2 separate regions of the Homo sapiens genome follow, and region 2 is linked to region 1. The links come from fine-mapping of genetic effects on gene expression. A gene starts in region 1. The other region holds a variant in brackets. All regions are shown on one strand. Distances are between the middles of the regions.

Region 1 (16,276 bases):
AGAGGGCAGTCCCAGGGCCTATGGGGTCTTGCTGGCTTGGCCACAGCCTCACTCCAGGCCTCATTGCAATGCACTGGGCACGGCCCCGCCTCCACTTAGCTGACGCTGGATCCTTCTTCGGCAGCCTGGGAGGCCGCCCTCCTCCTAGTTGGCTCTGTCGAGGACTTCCTTTCCTCTTGGCTCCCTCTCATAGCTCTTCGGCACTGCTCCCTCACCCCATCCTCTGCCCAAAAGGAGGACAATTAACTTTTGTCTGTGACTGTGAGCAAACCAGGCACCTCCCAGGGTCCCAGATCCCATATCTGCCCAGTGAAGGGACATATTAGATCAGTGATTCCCAGACTTTGGGGTCACGCAGACATGAAACATTTTTAAAGGCGGGGCAGAGGGGCGCACTAATATACGAGTGCCAACTTTTTATTTTGCCAAGTAAAGACTTTTTAAACAATGGCCATTGACTGTTGCCATGAGTTCAGAAAAGAACATTTCATAAAAGTAGGAAGTTCACCATCTCTGAATGTTTAAATGGAATCCATTCAGCCTAGGTCCAACTCACCACAGTGACCCTGCATTTCCTTCACTTTACCAAGAACTAGAGAACCTTCCTGGGGAGGCACAAGAGCACCAACATCTGGGAACCTCTGGGGAGAGATTTGGAGGGGCTGTCCCAGCCCCTGGGGTCTGGTTGACCAGAAATCCTGCCTCAGCCTGGACCGACCAGCCCTAGAGATCCAGTTTTACTTGGGCCACTCTGTAGGTGGATGGGTGCAAGTGGAAGGACATGGTCCCTGGCCTTAGAGACAAATTGCACACAGACAGACACAGACCAACCAGGCAGGGATGAAGAGCAAGGCCACGTGCACAGCATGAACGGCAGCAGTGGTTGGGAAGATTGCCCTGGGCTGCACCCTGCACTAGCTGTGCACCCTGCCTGGAGTCCACAGATCTGCGTGGTTCTCTCCCTCACCAACTTCAAGCCTTTGCTCAATGTCACCTTGTCTTTTTTGTTTTGTTTTATTTTTGTTTTTTGGGACGGAGTCTCACTCTGTCGCCAGGCTGGAGTGCAGTGGCGCGATCTCAGCTCACTGCAACTTCCCCCTCCCGAGTTCAAGCAATTCTCCTGCCTCAGCCTCCCCAGTAGCTGGGACTACAGGTGCGCACCAACACGTCCAGCTAATTTTTGTTTTAGTAGAGATGCGGTTTCACCATATGGAGCAGTTCGGTCTCAAATTCCTGACCTCAGGTGATCCGACTGCCTCGGCCTCCCAAATTCCTGGCATCACAGGCGTGAGCCACCACACCCAGCCTCAATGTCACCTTCTCAATGCGGCCGAATGTCACCTTCTCAATGCGGCCGACCCTATTTATTCTTTGTTGGCACGATCACAGCTCACTGCAGCCTCGACCTGCCTGGGCTCAAACAATCCTCCCACCTCAGCCCTCCAGAGCAGCTAGAACTACGGGTGTATGCCACCACACCCAGCTAATGTTTGTATTTTTTGTAGAGATGGGGTCTCCCTCTGTTGCCCAGGCTGGTCTTAAACTCCTGGGCTCAAGTGATCTGCCTGCCTCGGCCTCCCAAAGTGCTAGGATTATAGGTGTGAGCCACCATGCCCAGCCCTGTCCACCCTGTTTTATACTGCTGCCTGCCCACTTCAGCTGCCCCGACTTCCAATCGCCCTTATCCAGCTCCTTAGGATGGGTCACCTCCAAACATGATTTCCACTGCCACTGCTTACTGAGGTTACTACACCCTCTCTGCCTCCCCGGCTAGAATGTAGGTTCCACATAGCAGACGCTCAATAAACATGTGCAGGATGAGTGGAGGAGTTGAGACTCAGGTTAACTAACTTGCCTGAAACAGCAGAGCCAGCAAGCAGCTGTGCTGGGAACATGAAATCCTCTGTAGCTGCGGCTCCCTCCCTGCACAGTACTGAGGAGGAAGTGGGTATCAGGAGGCAGCTCGGAGGAGGCAGGGCCCCAGCCACAGGTTTAGCGTCGAAGTGCCCAGCATATCGTAGACACTCAATAAACATCTGTTGAGGAGCCCGAGGAGGGAGGATCACTTGAGGCCAGAAGTTTGAAGTCAGCCTGAGCAACATAGGGAGATCCCATCTCTACAAAAAATTAAAAAATTAGCTGGGTGTGGTGGTGCGTGCCTGTAGTCCCAGCTACTTGGGAGGCTGAGGCTGGAGGATCACTTGAATCCAGGAGGTGAAGGCTGCAATGAGCTTTGACTGCACCACTGCACTCCAGCCAGACCCTGTCTCTAAAAAAAAAAAAAAAGCAACAACAACAACAACAAAACATCCATTGAATGAATGGACAGGCCTGCCATTCGGTCCATTATTTTCTCCATCCTCACCCCTGCAACGATCAGGCAGCTTTGCAAAAGTGTGTGCCCACGCATGACAGAGGCTGGAGGGGCTTAGGGTTTGGAATCCTATTTTTCCTTAGAGCCAAAAATGACAAATGCAGCCCAGTGTGGTGGTTCACGCCTGTAATCCCAGCACTTTGAGAGGCCAAGGCAGGCGGATCACCTGAGGTCAGGAGTTCAAGACCAGCCTGGCCAACATGGTGAAATCCTGTCTCTACTAAAAACCACACGTACCTGTAATCCCAGCTATACTTGGGAGGCTGAGGCAGGAGAATTGTCTGAACCCGGAATGTGCAGGTTGCAGTGAGCTGAGATCGCGCCACTGCACTCCAGCCTGGGCCACACAGTGAGACTTTGTCTTAAAAAACAAAACAAAACAAAACATGACAAATGCTTGGGCCACAAGTGACCAGGGTGGGAGAGGCAGCTGAGCTCCTCATGTGTGGGCAGCCCTCACTGGCTCTGGGATTAGGGCAGCTGTGCTGACCATGCCTGGGTAGGGGATGGGGGAGCCCGGCGGGCAGTGGCAGGAACAGGACTCCACCAGCCAGGCTGCCACGCCTGCTCCACCTCTGAGCTTTGGATTCTTGGTTCCTGCTCATGTACCACCCACAGCTCCCTCCCTGCAGGCATCCTCCCCCCGTCCCTGCCAAAGGCACAGGTACCCTGTCTTTCCAGGACCCCTGGCTGCCCTGACCCTGGGTCCATAGGCAGAGGAGACAGAGATAGAAGCCACCCCAGGTGTTTGGAAGAAAAGCAAAATAAAGAAAAAAAAAAGGCAGACTGGAGCCAGAATGCCTGAGTTTGAATCCACTTCATGGCTGCATGAATTTTTTTTTTTTTTTTGAGACAGAGTCTCGCTCTGTTGCCCAGGCTGGAGTGCAGTGGCACAATCATAGCCCACTGCAACCTCAACCTCCTGGGCCCAAGCAGTCCGCCCATCTCAGCATCCCAAAGTGCTGGGATTACAAGTATGAGCCACCGCACCCGGCCAGCAAATACTAAATAAATGTTAGCTGTTTATTATTTTTTTCTAATACTTATGCCCATACAATCAGCTTATAACCTCCATAGACCCTCACAGACTATTCAGCAGATTAGGAAGGAGGCCCCCTCCCCGTGGAGTAGGCCAGTTATGATTTCTCTCTCCTCTTTCCAGGTATCCCCATTTGACAGATGGGACAACTGAGGCCCAGAGAGGTTGCTCAACTTGCTCAGGATTGCCAAGTTTTAGCAATTCAAGGTCTATGCCTGCCCCAAACAAGAAGGTAGCCTGGCTGCAGGTTTCTGGGCAAAGAAAGTCAATACTGGGAGTTACCTTTCCTCTTCGGCAGCTGCAGGAGGTTATTCCAGAGGCCAGGGAACCACTTTATAGCCCTCCAGGGAGATGTGGGGGTAGGTGGTTTATTCTATCCCCTATCCTCCTCACACAATCTAACCCACTGTCCCCAAAGACAAGTTTTCCCGGCTGCAGAAAGTAGAAAGTGCTGGGGTGGGGGAGCAGGTGTGAGAAGTGCAGGGGGCCTCTGGGCCCTGAAAGTGGCTATTGACATGCAGAGGGGCAGGCCTGGAGGCCACAGTGGCCTGATCAGTCCCTAGCAAAGGGCCAGGAAATGCAAGCGGGCAGGAGCTGGGGGGTGACACACAGGCAGCTGAGCCCACTTTTCAGTCCCCGGGGACCAGAGCATCCAAGGCTGGGGCCTGGGAGGTGGCAGAGCTGTTAAATTATCCACCCAGCCACAGAACCAGAAGGGACTCCTCACAGCGTTCAGCTTGCCCTCCTTGTTCAATAGCTGGGGAAACCGAGGTGCCGGAAGGGACAGGCCTTGCCCAAGTTCACAACAGTTGAAAACGTCACATCATCTCTCTGAGCCCAGGGTGTGTAGGACATAGGGGATAACTTGCCAGGGTTGCCATTCCAGCTTTAGCACATACTAGCTCTGTGGCTCTGGGCAGGGCAACTTTACCTGTTTACCACTCTAGGCCTCAGTCTCTTCATCTATAAAGTGGGCTTATCTATCAAATGGGATCATAATGATATGCAGAACCTCCTCACTGAGTTGCTGTAAGGAATTTTTTTGTTTGTTTGTTTTGTTTTGAGTCAGGGTCTTGCTCCATTCCCAAGCCTAAAGTGCAGTGGCACGATCTGCAGGATCACTGCAGCCTCAACCTCACAGACTCAAGCTATCCTCCTGCCTTAGTGCCTGGCCTGCGGTAAGGATTAAACGAGCTAATTGCACAGAAGGAGCCTGGCTCCTAGTACACTTGCTAAGTGTTCAAAATTATTATTATGTCTTAGGATCATCCAAACTCAAGCCACATCGAGAGGCAGGTGTGTGTGCGGGGGAAGGGCAGGGAAAGAACATCACCCACCGACCATGCTGTGCTCCTCCGTGATGCCCTGAAGTCCTCCTGGCAAGTCTTGGCCCACTGGCCATCCCTCAAGGGCAAGTTTTGCTTTGTCCTCAGCCCCCGGCTGACCTGGCAGTGATGGGCCATCCAACCTGCCTGAACCCTCCCATCTCAGTCCCCAATAGCATCTGTTCACTGCCGCCTTTCCTGGTCACCTACAGCCTCTGATGCTCGCCAGAGTCCCCCAAGCCCATCCCAGCCTCCAGCGAGGCCCCCAAGTGCTATGCCCAGGAGGGGCTGTTTCCAAACCCATCAGAAGCTGGCAGCCCCTGCCGTGCCTGTCCTCAGAAGCCCTCCCACCTGCCTGCTCCTCGCTGACTTAACTCTCTTTCTGGGCTGGTACCTCTAGCACCTTCTGGCGAACCCTTGCTCCTGGCCCTCCAGGCTTGTCTTTCTGTATCAGCTGCAGCAGAATTTTGGGGTGGGCGGATATCACCATCTTGGAGGCCATCCAAGGGGCTGGTGGCTCAGGCCTTGGACAAGAACTCCAAGGACAGGAAGCACCATGCCGGGGCGTAGGACCTCTGACGCAGCCCACAGGCTCTTAAAGGGCCAGGGCCAGGCCACAAGTGGTGCTGGCACCTGGTGAGTAGCAGAAGCCTGTAATGTGCACCCACAAGGACAGCGGGTTCACATTCCCCACTGCAGCCCTGGGCCTCATTCAGATGCCGCATCCTCGCCAACAGATGGGGCAGCTAAAGAAAAACTCCCAAGCAGCTATGCAATAAAGCACACCCTGCAGAAATTCCATCTCCAGCTTCCTGTGACACGGCCACACCAAGGTCATAACTGGTTGGACCTGCAGGGGACACTGAATCCTCAGAGGCTCACGTGGCCACTTATCACCATCTCCCTTATAATATATTAAGGAAGAGCAAGAGAGGTGGGTGCCCAGCAATGCCAGCTGCATACATTCGCCTGGGCAGGGACAGAGTGGCACTGCCAGGTACATAGGAAAAAAGACACACCTGCATACTTGCCTGGGTCAGGTCTCAGAGGCCCCCCATTGCTGGGGGAAGGGCAGGGGATATATACACCCCTGGGCAGAGATACCCAGCCTACCCTGCCCAGCTGCCTTCCCAGTGCAGATGACATGTGGCTTCTGAAAAAAACATCAGGGGCCAGGTGCAGTGGCTCATACCTGCAATCCCAGCACTTTGGGAGGCCAAGGCGGGTGGATCACTTGAGGTCAGGAGTTCGAGACCAGCCTGGCCAACATGGTGAAACCCTGTCTCTACTAAAAATACAAAAATTAGCCGTGGTGGTGGGCACTTGTAATCCCAGCTACTCGGGAGGCTGTGGCAGGGGAATCGCTTGAACTTGGGTGGCAGAGGTTGCAGTGAGCCGAGATCATGCCACTGCACTCCAGCCTGGGTGACAGAGTGAGACTCTGTCTCAAAATGAAAAACAGCGAAACAAAACAAAAAACCATCAGGTACCTAAATGTGACAGGGAATGCTGAGTGCCCTTCATTCGACCCAGGAGGGCTGGACCATTGGGACAGTAGCCAGAGATCCTTATCGATATAAGCAAGAGAGGCCTGTGTCATAGCTAGGCTGCAGCCACCTGGTGACAGGGGCCAGGGTGACTGGGTTTGAATCCCAGATCTGCCACTTCCTGGCTGGGTGACCTTGCAGGTGACTTCATCTAGCTAAGCCTGTTTCCTCATCTCTAAAATGGAAGTCAAGGCCCGGCACAGTGATGTATGCCTGTAATCTCAGCACTCTGGGAGGCCAAGGTGGGCAGATTGCTTAAGCTTAGGAGTTCGAGACCAGCCTGGGCAACATGGTGAAACCTTGTCTCCACAAAAAAAAAAAATTAGCTTGGCGTGGTGGTGCACGCCTATAGTCCCAGCTACTCAGGAGGCTGAAGTGCAAGGATCACCTAAGCCCAGGAGGTCAAGACTGCAGTGAGCCGAGATCACACCACTGCACTTCAGCCTGGGCAACCCAGTGAGACCCTGTCTCAAAAAAAAAGGAGTCATGATAATCCTTATCCCATGGGGCTGTCTGCAGATTCTCACTGTGCATCTGTCTGCTGGGGTGCCCTGTTGCGGGGTCAGCGAGATGATGAATGTCAATCTGTGGGCATGGAGCACAGCCACAGCTCGTTACTGTGTTGAAGATCTCACCTGTTGGCCGGGTGTGGTGGTTCACACCTGTAATCCCAGCACTTTGGGAGGCCGAGGGGGGCGGATCACGAGGTCAGGGGTTTGAGACCAGCCTGACCAATATGGTGAAACCCCGTCTCTACTAAAAATACAAAAATTAGCCGGGCGTGGTGGTGCGCGCCTATAGTTCCAGCTACTTGGGAGGCTGAGGCAGAAGAATCGCGTAAACTTAGGGGGTGGAGGTTGCAGTGAGCCGAGATCACGCCACTGCACTCCACCCTGGGTGACAGAGCGAGACGCCGTCTCAAAAAAAGAAAGAAAGAAAAAAGACCTCACTTGCTAGCCAGCTCATGTGGCAGCCCTCACTGTCCCCTGAGCGCCTCCTGCTAAGTCCCAGGGCACAGCCACCCTGAGGGGCAGCGCCCCCAGCCCCACTCCTGCTTCTCTCTGTCCCTGTGGGAAGCTGGAGAAAATCTCTCCCATTGCCATATAAGGCCATGCCTGGCTGGCCTGGGGTCACCAACCATGCCATCAGGGCTCGGGGAATGCCAGCTATGTAGGGGGAGTAGGAGGTGCTGGCCAGTTCTGCCCACTCCAGTAGTGCTGCTATGTACACACGTGCGTGCACATACAAACACACAGCAAATGGAGCTGGGGGTGGACACGCAGCAGGAGGCCCAGCCAAGCTGAGCGATTGAGAAAATAGGCTGGGTTCAAGTCGAGGCTGTTTAAACCCAGGCAGTTTACCCAGCCTCTCTGAGTCTCGTTTTCTCAAAAATGGGAGCAACAATACTCCCTGGGTTAGAGAGAGCATTCGCAAGATAATGCCCACAGTGCACCTGGCACAGGACGGGCACATACCAAGTGTTCAGAAAACTACAGCAAAAACTAAAGTGAAACCAAAAAGAGGTGCATTTTCATGCGGCTCCCCCACCTCCCTTCCTCTACTGGGATTTCTAGGCCCATTAGAGTCTCCTATTTTTACTCTTGAATCCCTTATAATAACAATAGCTAAGGCAGGGTATGGGGGCACATGCCTGTAGTCCCAGCTACTTGAGAGGATGAGATGGAAGATTGCTTGAGCTGGGGAGGTAGAGGCTGCAATGAGCTGAGATTGGGCCACTGCACCCCAGCCTGGGCAACAGAGTGAGACCCTGTCTCTGTTAACAACAGCAACAACAAAAAGCTAAATTTGGGCGGGGTGGGGTGGCTCACGCCTGTAATCCTAGCACTTTGGAAGGCTGAGGCGGGCAGATCACCTGAGGTCAGGAGTTCGAGACCAGCCTGACCAACACGGTGAAACCCTGTCTCTACTAAAAACACAAAGATTAGCTGGGCGTGGTGGCAAGCGCCTGTAGTCCCAGTTACTCGGGAGGCTGAGGCAGGAGAATCGCTTGAACCCGAGAGGCGGAGGTTGCAGTGAACTGAGATCACGCCACTGCACTCCAGCCTGGGTGACAGAGACTCTGTCTAAAAAAAAAAAAAAAAAAAAGCTAAGGCTGAGCTACCCTGCCCCTCTGGAAGCTGGCCTACACCAAGGGAGGAGAAAGGCCCCAAAGGGAACTAGGTATCGGCCCAGAGAAGCCCCTAGATCTGCCAGCCAAGCTGGGCTGTGCCCCAGGCAGCAGCCATGGCGGTGCCCAAGCTGCCTGGCACAGAAGCAGGGCTTTGGCAGTGAATCCTGGGCTTAGCCCAGGCCCCCAGAATCCACACTCCAGTGGGGCAGTGAAGCTGCACCCCAAAGGAAGGCAGTCCGGGCTGCCAGCACAATTCTGCCTACAATCCACCTAGCTCAGGCCCTCTGCACTGCCCCCATGGCCGTGGGTGAACCAATTCAGACTCTCACACAGAGTGACTCCCCCACAGTCTGCAAAGAGCTTCCATCCACTTCCATCGGTTAATTGTTGCAGGGACTCCAGAGGGGCAGAGATCCCTGCTCCCATTTCAGGCTGGGGAAGACGAGGTTCTGCTGGGCTGAGCAACCAGCATGAGCCAGGGCGGAGTATCTTCCACTCCCTGCACCTTGAGGCCACGAACAAAGAAACTGTCCTGATAGCTATCAGGGCCGCAGCCAGCTCTCCTGGGTGCTTTACATAGATTGTCTCACTGAAAAAATCACAACCATTATCTTTTTGGAGAAGGAGGCTCAGAGAGGTGAGTGGCTTGCCCAGAGTCACAGATCAGTGCTTGTGGGTACCTCATGACTAAACTGGTGGGGCCACCCTGCTCCACTGTGGTGAAGCAGCTCAAGCTTCCCGTGTGATCCTGGCGCCTCCTTCCTACAGGGCCCCAGATCCTGGGCCTCAGCAGCCCTACAGCGGCTGGGCTGTCATGGTGGGTCTCAGTACAGCGTCTTGGCAGGGGAAGGACGCTGGGCTGCAAGCTCTGTCACTGGCTTCTGCGTGGCCTTGGGTCAGCTGCTTGCCCTCTCTGGGCGCTGTCCTGAGGTGGTTAGACCACAGCTCCTTCCTGCTCACTTTCCCTAGTCCCAGTGCTGCCCAGATCAGCCCCTGACAGCTGTTAAAGTCCCTCCTCTTTCTAAGCCAAGCTAGTCGGTTTCCCAAAACAACCCTGGAGCCGCCCCCTCCCCCAACCCACCTCCCCAAGGGCTAGGTTGGCCCCGCCCTCTTAGCTCTTCTGGCTTGTCCAACCATGGTCACCTCACCCCCATCTCCAGCTGTCTGTGGCTCAGGGTCCCGCTGGCTGTGGGTGGCTCCAGCCAGCTCAGAACCCGCCTGGCCAAGTGACCCAGGGGGCTATATGAGGTCGGGGTTCCAGCCTTCTGTCCAGAGGGCTAGAGCAGCCAAGCCCCAGGCTGGGCAGGCACACAGTGATCTGGGAAGGAGCCCAGCAGGGATCCGAGACCCCTGAGCACCCCAGCCAGATGTCCGGGCAACCTTCCAGTTGTGCTCAAGATGCCCCCAGGAAGCAGGGTGAGGGTGGCGGTGAGGAGGCCGGAGCTTACCTGGAGGGGGAACCCTGAGGTCCCCAGAGCCCTGTAGCTGGGGACCGAATGGGAGTCCTGTAGCCAGCGGATGGAAAACAGACAGGCTGCCTACATCCAAGCAGTCCAAGAAAACCAAGGGGGAATCAAGGCTGCACACTGCTGGCAAGAGGCAATACCACAACCTGGCCCCAGGCTCGGACCCGCCTCCCACAGCCTTCTCGGGCTCTGCTGACCTCACCAGCGGCCCACTTCCAGACTGTCAGCTGGGCTTAGACCCTGGGTGTCCAGGGGACCAGAGGAGCCTGCAGGGGGAATGCCAAGCCTTGTTTCAGCGGGCGTGCCTCTGCCACCAGTTAAGAAGGAAACTGGGAGACATCCACCTCAGGAAATAATGCTAGTTCTGTGAGTGCTTCCTGAATGCTGGGTGCTGGGCCATGCAGGCCACGGGCCTTCCCTCTCTGAGCCTGCACAATGCCCTGCTTGGAGATGAGAGGCCCTTTGCTGAGGACCACAGAGCTGGCACACAGTGGAGGCCAGATCTGAGCCCAGGTCTTGCAGAACTTTAAAGCCACTGGCTGTGCTGCCTTTGAGCTTTGGCCAACCCAGACAGGTCCTGATATCTTTCCTTATCTTCTAGAATCTATGTAAATTTATGGAGCTCTCACTGGATGCCTGGCAACAACAGGAAAGATTTCTTTTGAGAAATCCACCAGGACCAGCAAGAAAAGCATTGAATCCCTTAAGGCAATCTTTCCTGAAAGTTGGAGTGAAGAGGAGTGGTGTGTTTGAGGGAGGCGGGAGGCTGGAGACCACGGGGAAGTGCCAGGATCTCTACGCCCATCAGAGTCTTCTATTTGTACTTTTGAATCCCTTATAACAACAATAGCTAAGGCCAGGCGTGGGGGCACATGCCTGTAGTCCCAGCTACTCGGGAGGATGAGGAGGGAGGACCGTTTGAATCCCAAAGGTGGAGGCTGCAATGAGCTGAGATTGGGCCACCGAACTCCAGCCTGGGCGACAGACCAGCAAATGACCCGGAGCCTGTGTTCTGAGCTGGAGAGATCACTGGCCTAGGGCCCTTCCCGCGCCAAATCCTTGGGCTGCTCCCAAGCGGGCTTGCGGGGAGCCACGAGCCGGCTGGCATCCGAGCTCCTGACCCGGCCCCACCTCCCCAGTCCCCAGTTGCAAGAGTAACAACTTGCAACCCGAGACCGGAGGCGGGAGGCGGAGGCGGACCTACCTGGAGTCGGAGGCGACGGGGCTGGGGGCGGAGGGAGGCACCTGAGGGAAGCCCAGGGGAAGGGAAGGAAGAGGGTAGATCTGGAGGCGGGCACGGCCTCGCGGAAGGAGAGGTGGCACCCGCGCAGCGCGCGGCTCGGGACTCGCGTGCTGCCCTGGGCGCGGGGCTTACCCGGTTGATCTCGGCCAGCCTCCTCTCCTGCCGGGCTTTGAGCAAGCCGAACGCCTTCCCTCCTGGAGGAGACAAAGAGGCGGCCTGGGAAGCGGGGTCCTCTTCGGGCCACGCGCCCCCGTCCCCGCCCGCTTCCCGCGCGCGGTGGACCCCGCGGTCCGCCCGGCGCGCACAGGTGGCTGCTCGGGGACGGCGGCGCCTACCTTGGAACCTGTTGCTGAGCTCGCCCGACATGGCGAGCGCGGGGCTCCCGCCGGCTCCAGGCTTCGCGGACGCGGCGAGGGACGAGGAGGAGGCACAGGCGCCTGGTCCGGGCTCCGGCTAGCTGCGTGTGGCCGCGGGACCGAGGGGCGGAGGAACGGCGCGGGCGGCCGACACACCCCTCCCTCCGCTGCCGGCCCCTCCCTCCCTCCCTCCCGCCTCGCCCCTCCCCTCCCGCCTCTCCCCTCCCCTCCCGCCTCTCCCCTCCCCTCCCGCCACCCGCTCCGCGGGCTTCAAAGCGGCTATTATGCGGGACGCTGAGCCCGCCGGCCGACCCCTCTGCTGGAGGACGCGGAAAGTGCAAAGCGCGGGGCGGCCGCACCCCTCCTCTCTGCCCCTCCCCGGACCTCAGCAAGTCCCTGCCACACAAATGAAATGCGAGGATCTTAGCATGAACTCCATGGGGTGGTTGTGAGGACCAAGTGCCGTCGGGGAGTCGGCGCTCAAACATCACTGCTGCCTTTGGGGCAGTGCGGCTGCTGTGACAACAGTGGCCCGTCAAATCAATTGGAATGAATTCGTGTCTTGTTAATAAAAGAGATTTCTTGGGCACTCACAGGCACTTTGCACCGTACACCAGTCATTTCATTCTCAAAACTCCATGAAATAGGACTTGGCATTCCCATTTCCAGAAGAGAAAAGTCAGGAAGCTGGAGCTGGGGCGCAAGGCCACCAGGAGGAAAGACCAGCCCATGACTCCAGGAAGAGCGGAGCTCAGGATGCAGGATAGGGTACCTGTGGCCAGGGTGACCATGAAGTCTAGTGTCCAAATCAGGACAGCCAGAGTCAAGGGAGCACTCCTCATAATGATGCTGGGCCACAGGCATAGACAGGCGCTGTCCAGGGCAGGCAGCGCTAGGAATGGCCCCACCGTGCATCTGACTCCTAGGGTAGGGACCCTGAGATCATCTTTCTTATTTATTTATTTTTTTCGAGGCAGAGTCTTGCTCTGTTGCCCAGAGCTGGAGTGCAGCGGCTTGATCTCGGCTCACTGCAACCTTCGCCTCCGGGTTCAAGTGATTCTCCTGCCTCAGCCTCCCAAGTAGCCGGGACTACAGGCACACACCACCACGCCCAGCTAATGTTTGTATTTTTAGTAGAGACGGGGTTTCATCATGTTGGCAAGGTTTGTCTCGAACTCCTGACCTAAGGTGATCCACCTGCCTCGGCCTCCCAAAGTGCTGGGATTACAGGCGTGAGCCACCACGCCCAGCCGAGATCATCATTTTTCTGTGGCTGTCCCTGGGGAGGGAAGTGCCCAGCAAGGGGCTAGGCAGAATGGGATGGGGCTGAGGTCAGGGCAGCAGTCCAGGGGGCAGGCCCCTCCTCCCCAGTAAGACCAGCGCCCACCTCTCCTAGCTGACGCTCCTCTGTCCACTCACCCAAGGGTTTGGATTTGGCCAAGCTGCATGACCTTAGGCGAGGCACTTGATCTGGCTGAGCTTCAGTCCCCTGATCTTCACAATGAAGTAACCCAGAACGCACTAAGCAGGGGCTTTTGTAACTTTGATGACTTGCTGGATGGTTTAAGCAGAGAGTAAAAGCTTAGCGTTACCACCCTTGGTGGATGGGAGCTGACTTAGGACAGAGCCCTCATAATGCACTTCCCTCTCCAGGCTCCAACAGCCTATTGCCCTGGCCGGTTGGGCTGGTTGGCTCCAGTCAGCCATCCTACAGGGCAGGGGCCACCCCACCTTCTGCTCAGCTGCTGGACTGCATTGCTAGCCAGATGTTCAACAGCTGCCGCATTCCACCCGGCAGCGGCCCCACCTCTGGGGCCAGAGAATAGATCAGCACATGCACCAGGCATGATCAGACTGCGTGAGTCACAACATGTCAGGCCCGAGTTCTCCACCCGTCGGGGATGCTGGGACTGAGCTGAGCTGGATCCCACGGCTTGAGTGGATAAAGGCTGAGTGCCAAGAGCAGGCACCAGGACGACTGTGTGCCATCGGCTGAGAAACTGGAGGGAGGCGGGAGGGGGACATCAGACCCTATCCCAGAGGTCTTGGAAGAACTCCATATTCTCGACATCACTTACACCAGACGCCAATCACCAAACTCACTGTGCAGCAGCAGCTCCCCCATCTTCGGCCTCTCCACCTCTGCCCAGACATCTAGGGACCAAGTCACTCCTAGCTCAGTTTAATCATGTCAATCCCCCACCGTAGCCTTGATTTTACAGTTTTCTGTGGAGGAGCACACCTCTTCTCTGAACACCATCTCCCATTAGGTTGGGGGGTGGCACCGGTCATCCATTATTGGCCTTAGATCCAGAGATCCTCATTATCCTGAACGGGGGTTGGTGGGACTTCACCTAAGCTGAGAAGCTGGAATCAGGACAGAGTCACCAGCTTGTCTCTTGCAAGCACTGGACCTGATGACATGTACACCTGGGGCCATTATGGGGGATGGCGGTAGGGGTGGGTGTCCTCTCCTATCAGGCACAAGAAAAACAAAGAAAGCCACTCTGCAAAGAGAAAAGAATGGGCCGGTTGCAGTGGCTCATGCCTGAAATCCCAGAACTTTAAGAGGCCAATGCAGGTATATCATCTGAGGTCAGGAGTTTGAGACCAGCCTGACCAACGTGGTGAAACCCTGTCTCTACTAAAAATACCAAAATTAGCTGGGCATGGTGGCAAGCACCTGTAGTCCTAGCTACTCGGGAGGCTGAGGCAGGAGAATTGCTTAAACCTGGGAGGTGGAGGATGCAGTGGGCAGAGATCATGCCACTGCACTCCAGCCTGGGCAACAGAGCGAGACTCCATCTCAAAAAAAATCAATAAATAAAGAGAAAAGAACGAAGCAGATACAGGAGAGGAGAGCAGAGACACAGACCAAGAAGAGAGGCGGGAGGGGGGAAGAGGGAAGCCAACCTATCCCGGAAGCCTCAGGCTCCCCTCCCTAGGCTATCTCCAACACGTGGCAGCCGTTTTTACTCCAGGGTTCCAAGCGACCCTCCCAACACCCCTTTTCTGCTGAAACCACCTCAGGAGGGGTTTGAGGCCTGCGGCCAAGAGCCCTGACTGAGCAGCTCCAACATCCCACCCCATTCAACCTGGGGTCCTGGAGTGATGCAAGCTGGCCGAGCCCCAACCCTGCGGGCCCCGGACTGTTGTCCACCCTCTTGCCTGGAATGCTTCCTTCTCTGCCTCCCCACCCTTCAAGGCCCCACCCACACCATCCCCCTCCTGGATGGCGCCCCTCCCTGCTCCTCACCATCCTCGGACACTTGGCTGTGAGTTCGTCTCGAGCCTGAACCAGAGGTCAGCTGAGGGCCTCTCCGCACCCCACCCCTCCAACTCACCAGCTCCTAGGCTTTACGTGGTAAGTGCCTGAGAGGACAGGGTAGGTACCTGTGATCACACAACCCCAGCAAAGCCCTCTAATGGGAGGTACTGGCCCAGCCACGAGCTCGGCTTTTGCCACCTTCCTACCAACGTCCGGTCCACATGCTGGCCACCTACTAGGTGTGTCATATGCACACCCACAGCCAGGGCCCTGGCTGCCCACCAGCCGGGGAGGGTGAGGCACACCACCCTGCCCAGTGAAAGGGTCCTTTATTTCCACGTTCAACGGAATTGGTCTGTGCTGCTGCCCTACCCCTGCCCCTGTCAGGGGAGCCACGGGAGGGGGCTGGGCCCGCAGAGGTGCCTGACTTCCCAATGCCGAGGCCTTGCCATCTGCTGGAAGAGGGTCTGGGAGAGGGGAGGGATGCCAAGAGGAAATGCTGAGGAGTCCTGGGCAGAGGCCAGCATGCGGGCCTGGCCACAGGGCGATTCCCAGACAGGACAGACTGGAATGGCAGCCAGGCTTGCACACCCTGGTGGCCTCCCGCATGGCAAGTGGTGCCGCAGGGCTGGTCTGGAAAGCGTCAATTAAAGGTCAACTGGGTTGCCGGGGGCACAGAGGCGTGCTCCTGGTAGCCTGAGCACCCTGACCTAGGCGCTTTTGGGCCTGGCTCTTTGGATAGATCACAGGCTGAAGTGGGTACAGGCCAGGGTGGGCCATTCCCTCAGGGCATCTGGTGCAGTCCCAGGACCCTGAGAGGGAAGCGTCCGGTGAAGGCAATGACACCCCCGCCAGGAATGGGCCTTGCTCTAGCCAGACTAGCAGGCCTGGCCACGGCCTCAGGGTCTCTGGGCCTCAGATTCTGCTGCTAAGAACCCTCCCGGGATCTTGCATTTCTTGGCCTGTTGGTCCCCTGGCTGTGTCGAGCTGTAGGGAGTGCACGCAGCAACACAGGTCAGGGAGCTGCTGTGAAACAGAGGGCAGCCAGCTCTGGGACTAGGGGCTTTGGCTGTTGCTGACCCCCTTGATCTCTGCAGATCTGCTGAGACCTCCCTGCTATCTGGAGTGAGTGGATGTAGCACCCCAGGGCATCTCATGTAACAACTTGCCCAACATCCAGAGGGTGTCCAGCACACAGGTGGCTCTCACAACAGCTGTGGACTGTAATGTGTGTGGACCGTAAGCTGCTGACTGGATGGATTAGACTTGAACACGTGTGGGTCATACACACAGACATGCACCCTCACGTGTGTATGTTATTGACACTGGGGTGTGCCCGTTTATGCATGTGCAGGGGTGAGAGTGTGCACTCATGTCCAGGTGAACTGGGTACGCACACTCAGTCCTGCTGGCAGGGAAGAAGCCACAGACAGAATCGGCAGGGAGTGACTATCCACACGGGGGCGAGTTCACAGCAGCCGGCTCCGGGGAATGTCTGTATGGGCACACCTGTGGGGTAGTGTGCAC
Region 2 (8,000 bases), 45 kb after region 1:
TCAGCCTCCCAAAGTGCTGGGATTACAGGTGTGAGCCACCACGCCTGGCTACCGTCTTTTCAGGAAGAAAAATGCCCAGCAGCCTTCTTCTCAGACAGCCCCCACCTGCTCTGGGGAGGCAGCAGGTGTCTAGGCATGAAGCCGTCAGTGTGGGAGTGGAAGAGGTCTGAGTCCAGCCTTCTCAGGTGCCTCCTGGCCATGTGACCTTGAGCAAGGCCAGGTCTGCTCCTATAAAAGTGGGGATCAGTTGGCCAGGCGTGGTGGCTCACGCCTGTAATCCCAGCACTTCGGGAGGCTGAAGCAGGAGGATCACTTGAAGTTAGAGGTTTGAGACCAGCCTCAACATGGTAAAACGCCATCTCTACTGAAAATATAAAAATTAGCCGAGGATGGTGACAGGCGTCTGTAATCCCAGCTACACAGGAGGCTGAGGTGGGAGGATCTCTTGAACCCAGCAGGAGGCTGCAGTGAGCCAAGACTGCACCACTGCACTCCAGCATAGGCAACAGAGCGAGACTCTGTCACCCCCCACAAAAAATAAAAAATAAAACATAAAATAAAATAAAAAGAAGTGAGAATGAGTAGCCAGCAGCAACCAGGCCTCAGGAGTCCAGGCTGGAGGGAGGCACGGCTCTGCCACCTGCTGGCCATGCATCTGCACTGCAGCGTGGGGCCTTCACCTGTGAGATGGGACAGGAAGGGTCCCGGCCCCGCAGGGATGTCTGCAGGAGTCAATGATATAGTGTAGAGAAGGTGACTAGCACATGCAGGAACCTGGTGACACTATTTTATTATTTCCCAAGTGTCCTGAAAAGTAGAGACTTTCATTATCTGCGCTTCCCTAAGGCATTCCCAGTTAGCTATGGCTGAGCTCCTATGCAACCCAGGCCTGTGTTTTCAGAGCCTGAGCGTCTCCTGACCACCATATGGCTTTGTGTAGAAACAGAAGCAGTGTATATACTGTCATTATCTCCACCTTACAGAAGAGGAAGCAGGCTCAGGGAGGGAAGTGACTTTCCCATGGCCACTAAGGGGTGAGGGTGGCAGGTCTGTGGTTCTGGGTTGGTGCCTATGAGCTGCTGTCACCTGTGTGACCTTCTTGAGAACCCTCCTGCTGTCACCTGCCATGCTGGTGCCTCTGCCCTTCCTCACAGCACCCTCTGCATGTAAAGACCCCTGAGGTCTTTCCCTGGTCCTTCCTGGGAAAAGGGCCAGCCCAGGGAGAAGGTGGCGCGGACAGATGGCCCACAGAGCAGCTGGCTTATGGTTATCACCTGATACATACAAAGTCCTTGGCACAGAGCCTGAGGCTTCAACAAATTCCAGTAGTAACTTTTATTAAACTATGAGGTGCCCAGGCACTGAGCAGCACGGGAAAGCTCAGTGCCCGCACTGCCCCACAGCTTGGCCAACACCTCAATGCCTGTGCCAGGCTGGCCCTGTTCAGGTCAGTACTCATCCCGCTGTTTTGGGTATAACCCAGGTGCCTTCGGATGGGGTGCCAGGAGACTCACCTGTGTTGGGGTCACAGGTGCCATGCTGGTTACAGGTGCAGGGGACACAGCTGGCATAGGGACCCCCCTGTGGCATCTCCCTCTTGTATCCCGGAGCACAGGATTCACAGAACTGGCCCGTGTAGCCAGTGGGACATGAACAAATCTCCACCCAGGAGGCTGGCGGGGAAAGCCCTGGCCGGGCGGATGTGAGCCGGACCTCAGTCAGGAACACTGGACCTGCAGAGCGAGAAGGGAGAGAGGAAGAGAGGAGGCACAAGCTCCCTGCACATGCTTCCCCCCAAAACCTTCCTGTTCACATATGGACCAGGCCCACGTATATAAAGGCAGACTAGCAATCAATGATTTTTCTTTTTTTGAGACAGATTCTCATTCTGTCACTCAGGCTAGAGTGCAGTGGTGCAATCATAGCTCTGTAGCCTCGACTCCTAGTCTCCAGTGATCCCACCATGTCACCCTCCCAAGTAGCTGCGACTACAGGCAAGACACCAAGCCCAGCTAATTTTTAAAATTTTTGTAGAGATGGGGTTTCTCCATGTTGCCCAGGCTGGTCTTGAACTCCTGGCCTCAAGTAATCCTCCTGCCTTGGCCTCCCAAAGTGCTGGGATTGCATGTGTGAGCCACTGCGCTGGTTGATTTTTATTTTTATTTTTCAAATTGTCAATTCAAGGGTAAGGGAGATGATTAGGCAATTTTCAAGAAGAAATAGATATGGCTGAGAATTTTATGGAAAGATATCCATCCACAGGTTATTAACGATATATAGATTTAAACAACGATGATACCATTCACATCTCTCAGACTGGTAACATTTTATAGATGAATTTTAGTGGAGGATGGCGTGTAGGAAACTCACCTGGGCTACTCATAACTGAATGCTACATTTAGGCAAAGTTTAAGGTCTATTTCTAAGGTTTTAAGATTTTTCTTGTTGTTTTGGTTGTTTTTAAGAGAGACAGAATCTTGCTCTGTCACTCAGGCTGGAGTGCAGTGGTACAACCATAGCTCACTGCAGCCTTGAACTCCTGGCCTCAAATGATCCTCCTGCCTCAGCCGCTCAAGTAGCTGAGACCAAAGGTGTGTGGCACCACACCCAGCTAATTTTTTAAATTTTTTGTAGAAAAACGGTTTCGCCTTGTTGTCCAGGCTGGTTTTGAACTCCTGGCCTCAAGGACTCCTGTCTCAGCCTCCCAAAGTGCTGGAATTACAGGCTTGAGCCACCACGCCCAGCCTAAAGTTCTAAGTGTTATAGGAGATTTTGAGACTAATGAATGTAACAGGATTTTGATGTAAAAGAAGCTAATTGACACAGAAATGTCAGTGACATTTCTTACCTGCAAGGAAAGTGAACATCTTGTATTTAGATCAACTATAATGTGTACATTTTAAAAATAAAGAAATCTGATATTTGGAAAAAAAAATGGGCCGGGCGCGGTGGCTCGAGCCTGTAATCCCAGGACTTTGGGAGGCTGAGGCGGGCGAATCATAAGGTCAGGAAATCGAGACCATCCTGGCTAACACGGTGAAACCCCGTCTCTACTAAAAAATACAAAAAATTAGCCGGGCGTGGTGGCGGGCGCCTGTAGTCCTAGCTACTCGGGAGGCTGAGGCAGGAGGATGACATGAACCCGGGAGGCGGAGCTTGCAGTGAGCAGAGATCATGCCACTGCACTCCAGCCTGGGTGACAGAGCAAGACTCCGTCTCAAAAAAAAAAAAAAAAAAAGAAAGAAAAGAAAAAAGAGTGTGGATGTACGAATACTAATCAGAAGGTTTTGCTTCCAGTAACAGAGGAGCAGGGGATCCTGGCAGATCAACCTTCCCACAGAAAACAACTATAAACTCTGGGCAAAATATGAAAATGACCATCTGTAGACACAGAACAGGGAGACTGGAGGCGGCCGACACTCCTCATCAGAGCAGCCTTTCTGAAGGAAAATTTGGCAGTGTGGATCAAAATGGAAAATGCTCCCTCTTTGACCTAACATCTCCATTTCCAGCACTCTGTCCTAAAGCGACACTTATACTGGAATACCAAGACCTTTCTATGAGGCTGGTCCCTATTCCCTGTGACACGGTTGTAATGGGGAAAACTGGAGGCCACTTAAGCGCCTGTCAATAGGGGGATGGCTAAAACCTCACAGAGCACCCATACCACAGAATCTTACACACCAGACACAGAAAACCAGGCTTTCTACGCGTAATGACAAGGAACAACCTCCACGACGCACTGTTAGCTGACAAAAAGCAAGTCCCAGAATATCGTACTGTGTGATTACCTTTCTTTCTTTTCTTTTCCCTCCCTTGCTCCCTCCCTCCCTTCTTCTTTCTTTCTCTCTCTCTCACTCTCTCTCTCTCTTTCTCCCCCTCCCTTCCCCTCTCTCTTTCTTTTTCTTTCTTTCTTTGAGACAAGGTCTGGCTCTGCTACCCAGGCTGGAGTGCAGTGGCATGATCTTGGCTAACTGCAACCTCCGCCTCCCAGGTTCAAGCAATTCTCCCTCCCGAGTAGCTGGGATTACAGGCACATGCCACCATACCCGGCTAATTTTTGTATTTTTAGTAGAGATGGGGTTTCACCATATTGCCCAGGCTGGTCTCAAACTCCTGAGCTCAAGTGATCCGCCCGCCTCAGCCTCCCAAAGAGCTGGGATTACAGGCGTGAGCCACCACGCCCGGCTGTGTAATCACATTTCTATGTTTTTAAAAAAATACAGATGTTAAGTACGTACACACAGAAAGGTTTAGAGAGAGGCCTCCCAAAACATTACCCATGGAAAGAGGAAGTTTGGGGATTGCGGGTGCTGGGGAGGGTCGCTATGTCCTCTGCTTCTCCAGGGCATCCCAGCACCCTTGGACTCAAAAGAGGCCCAGGGGAAGACTGACCCTCTGAGCCAGAGGTCCTCAAAAAGAGCAAAATCTCCCTCCCCTGGAAGCAAATCTGAGGACATGTTGGTTGTCATGTGGATGAAGAGGCCTAAAGTTCCCAGAAATTGACATTCCCAGAAACTCCCCACATGACTTTCAAATGTCCTGCGTGGTGCTGGAAGGGTAGAAAAACCCCTTTGTAAACATCTGAGCCTAGAGCTCAGCTTCATTTTACACACATACACTAGGGGTTTTGTTTTTTGTTTTGTTTTTTTTTTTTTAGAGACAAGGTCTCGCTTTGTCACCCAGGCTGGAGTGCAGTGGCACAGTCACTACAGTCTCAACCTCCTGGGCTCAAGCGATCCTCCAGTCTTAGTCTCCTGAGTAGCTGGAATTACAGGTGCAGACCACCCCACCAGACTGTTTTTTGTTATTGTTG[CTGT/T]TGTTGTTTTGAGATGGAGTCTGGCTCTGTCGCCCAGTCTGGAGTGCAGTGGCGCAATCTTGGCTCACTACAACCTCCGCCTCCTGGGTTCAAGCGATTCTCCTGCCTCAGCCTCCCAAGTAGCTGGGATTACAGGTGTGTGCCACCACGCCCAGCTAATTTTTGTATTTTTAGTAGAGGTGGGGTTTCACCATCTTGGCCAGGCTGGTCTCAAACTCCCGACTTCATGATCCACTCGCCTTGGCCTCCCAAAGTGCTGGGATTACAGGCGTGAGCTTCTGCGCCCGACCTATATTGATTTTTAAAATAGCGTGTGGGTAGAGGTTCTAATGAGGAACAGATCAGAGGCTAAGGCTGTCAATCACTGTGACCAGGGTGGGAGGTGGTGACAGACCCCCATCAATGATGTGTGATGGCTTGGCCCCCTCTTTGGGAAGACCAGACCCTCCTAGGGTGGCTTAGGTACAATACCGCCAGTGACCAGCAGGGGAGTCACTCTGCCAGGGGACTCCTGGACTGCCGGCTGTGGGCTGTGTCCAGCGGGGACAGGGGGCTTGGTGGATCCAGTGAAGGTGGAGTGAGCACACCCAGCGGGTCTGGGTGGCTTGCTGGCCGCACACCTGCCTCTGAGGCCCATCCTTCAGGCCTCTCTCCTGTCCATTCCCTGCATCTGACCTCAGCCACCATCCCCATTGCCTTCACAGGTTATATGGCCTCTGGCAACTGTCCTGACTTTTGACTAAGGTTCCTTCTTGGCAAAACAGGACAATAACCACCCGGCCGCAAGGCCCTGACAAGACTGTGACCGCCGGAGCCCAGCCCAGTTCTGAGACCTGGCAAGCACTCGGGTCTTGGGCATGTGGTTGTCTTTACTGACCGGCAGGGCTGGGGCCGGGACTGACGCGGAGGCGGAGGCTGGTCAGGTTGGCGAGGAGCCGCTGGAAGTGGAAGGGGGGCAGTGGAGGGGCCACGTCCTCGGAGGTCTCCTGCAGGCTGGCGAGAGAAGCGGTCAAAGTGAGATCCCGACATAGGGTGGGGGGGTACCATGCCTGGGGATGGGGGGTAGCCCCCCAGACTACAGGGGCATCTGAAATGTGCCCGGACCTCAGAGACCACCCCTCTCACCTCCCCATCTCTCAGGACAGAAGGGGATACTTACTGGAACCTGAGCTCTACCTCCCTGGGATGCCCGGCATCCTGGGGGCCAGACAGGCTAGAGTGCCTCAGGGACAGGGCCAAGCCTGTCCCTTCCAGCCTCAGCTGTACAGGGAGTGGGGAGTCCCCGGGGGGCACCCGGAAGGTCAGTATGAGGGGCTGCCCATAGCTGAACCGCTGGTCTCCCAGGAACTTCTCTGAAGACAAGAGAAGAAGGCTTTGACAGTCTTCATATGGTTAGCTTGATTTTAAATGTCTATGTTGATTTTATCGGCAACTAAACATTCAAAAAAGATAAAAGTGCAGTGGGTAGAAAATCAAAAGCTTCCTGCACAGCAGACCCTGCAGGGGGCCCACCCACACCTCTGCAGTCACACACGCCCCCACACTTGGCTTCATGCTCTGCTGTGACCATCTTCACATTCTTAATAATTTTATCTTTGAACTTGGGTTTTAGAAGTGACGTCCGATGGAACACGGAGTCCGAGGGTGAACGGAGGGGATACACACACGTGTGACCAGAGAGGCTGCCGTCTGCTCATGTGTAGCATTCACGATGCCCATGAGCACGAAATTCCTAGGGAACACCCAGCAGCAGGAGTTTAGCGGGACCTCCAGGTGACAGCAAGGTAAGTGAGCTGGCTGAGTGAGCAGAGGTGCTCTGGGCCCCGGGCCATGCTTTCCCTTCCAATCAGAACTTGCCCTGAACTCGGAAAGAAGGCACTAGTTTTCTGAGACACGAACCACCAAGCGCTGTGCGGTACCTTCTGACTCATGTCATTTCACTGCATCAGCCCATCATTTCTTCAGAAGTTCGTGACCCAGGAGGAAAGGACACAGGCCACCCTCCCTCCTCCTTTCCCAGTACCCTCCCTCCTCCTTTCCCAGTGGTCTTTCCCTTACCCGTGAGAAAGCCACAGAGGTGTGCCATGTTGGTGGAACATGCGTGTGTCAAGGAGTGAAATAAAAGTGGCTGGGCTTGTTGTGTGCAGTATTTCCACTGTCCTCGTAAGAACAAAATACGCAGCCTGGCATTGTGGCTCACGCCTGTAATCCCAGCACTTTTGGAGGCTGAGGCGAGTGGATCACAAGGTCAGGAGTTCAAGACCAGCCTGGCCAAGATGGTGAAACCCCATCTCTAGTAAAAATACAAAAAATTAGCCGGGCATGGTGGTGGGTGCCTGTAATCCCAGCTACTCAGGAGGCTGAGGCAGGGAATTGCTTGAACCCAGAAGGCAGAGGTTGCAGTGAGCCAAGACCACGCCAATGCACTCCAGCCTTGGCAACAGAGCAAGACTCCGTCTCAAAAAAAAAAAAAAAAAGAATGGTAAAATTCATGCTAATAACTTTATATGTTTCATGCTAATAACTTAAAATTTTCCTTTACCTAGAATGGCATCAAATAGCAAACCAAAAAACACCATGACAAATAAAGGGCAAAACTGCAGGGGAAAAAAAGTGTTTATATTTTAGTACCTTTAATAGTACTTCCCCCTATTTGGGAACTGGGGGGGTGGGATTTTAATTCTGCAGTGCATCCCTCAAATTCTGTAGCGCGCCCCGCCACAGCTTTGGTGGACAGCTCCCGAAACACTGAAAGTCCCTGTGTCCCTCTGCCCCAGAGCGTTTCCTGGCTGGGGGAATTTCTTACCTGTGCAGAAGCGGCCTGAAGCGGGGAGCCCCGGGAGCTGGTGGCCACATGCCCCGGCTGCACTCCGATTCGGCCTCCAGAATCAATCACCAGCACGAGCGCAATGCTCCCCTCCCATCCTTTGCTACTCACGTTCTACACGTGAGATGGTTTCACACACTGTTCCACAACCGGCCGCATCACAGTCCACCAACAGGCTACCCAGCCCCTCCTGGGACTGCCCCAAGCTTGCACCATTAAATACTCTTTTTTTTTTTTTCCTTTTTTTGGAGATGGAGTCTCACTCTGTCGCCCAGGCTGGAGTGTAGTGGTGCAATCCTGGCTCACTGCAACCTCCATCTCCCAGGTTCAAGCAATTCTCCTGTCTCAGCCTCC

What was found. PIP is the estimated chance that this variant, and not a neighbour inherited with it, causes the effect.
Region 2: its variant is fine-mapped to the expression of AIF1L in substantia nigra (GTEx, PIP 0.93).

The regions. Positions count from the first base shown.
Region 1 is chr9:131,091,845-131,108,120 of GRCh38, reverse strand. AIF1L (allograft inflammatory factor 1 like) reads right to left here and starts at 11,590. Exons shown (of 6, transcript NM_031426.4): 1 at 11,461-11,590; 2 at 11,258-11,319. The coding sequence starts at 11,491. LAMC3 (laminin subunit gamma 3) reads right to left here. Exons shown (of 28, transcript NM_006059.4): 28 at 13,648-16,276. LOC124902289 (a long non-coding RNA gene) reads left to right here and starts at 14,749. Exons shown (of 3, transcript XR_007061825.1): 1 at 14,749-14,845. RefSeq lists enhancers at 4,850-5,769, 10,754-11,253, 13,294-13,795, 14,593-15,189, 15,190-15,788 and 1 more.
Region 2 is chr9:131,050,662-131,058,661 of GRCh38, reverse strand. It overlaps LAMC3 (laminin subunit gamma 3), which reads right to left. Exons shown (of 28, transcript NM_006059.4): 10 at 5,979-6,171; 11 at 5,697-5,812; 12 at 1,515-1,733. Among named protein-coding and RNA genes, the nearest start is that of AIF1L, 42 kb to the left of the region's middle. RefSeq lists enhancers at 1-484, 5,792-6,991. The variant CTGT/T (reference allele first, on the strand shown) is at 4,817.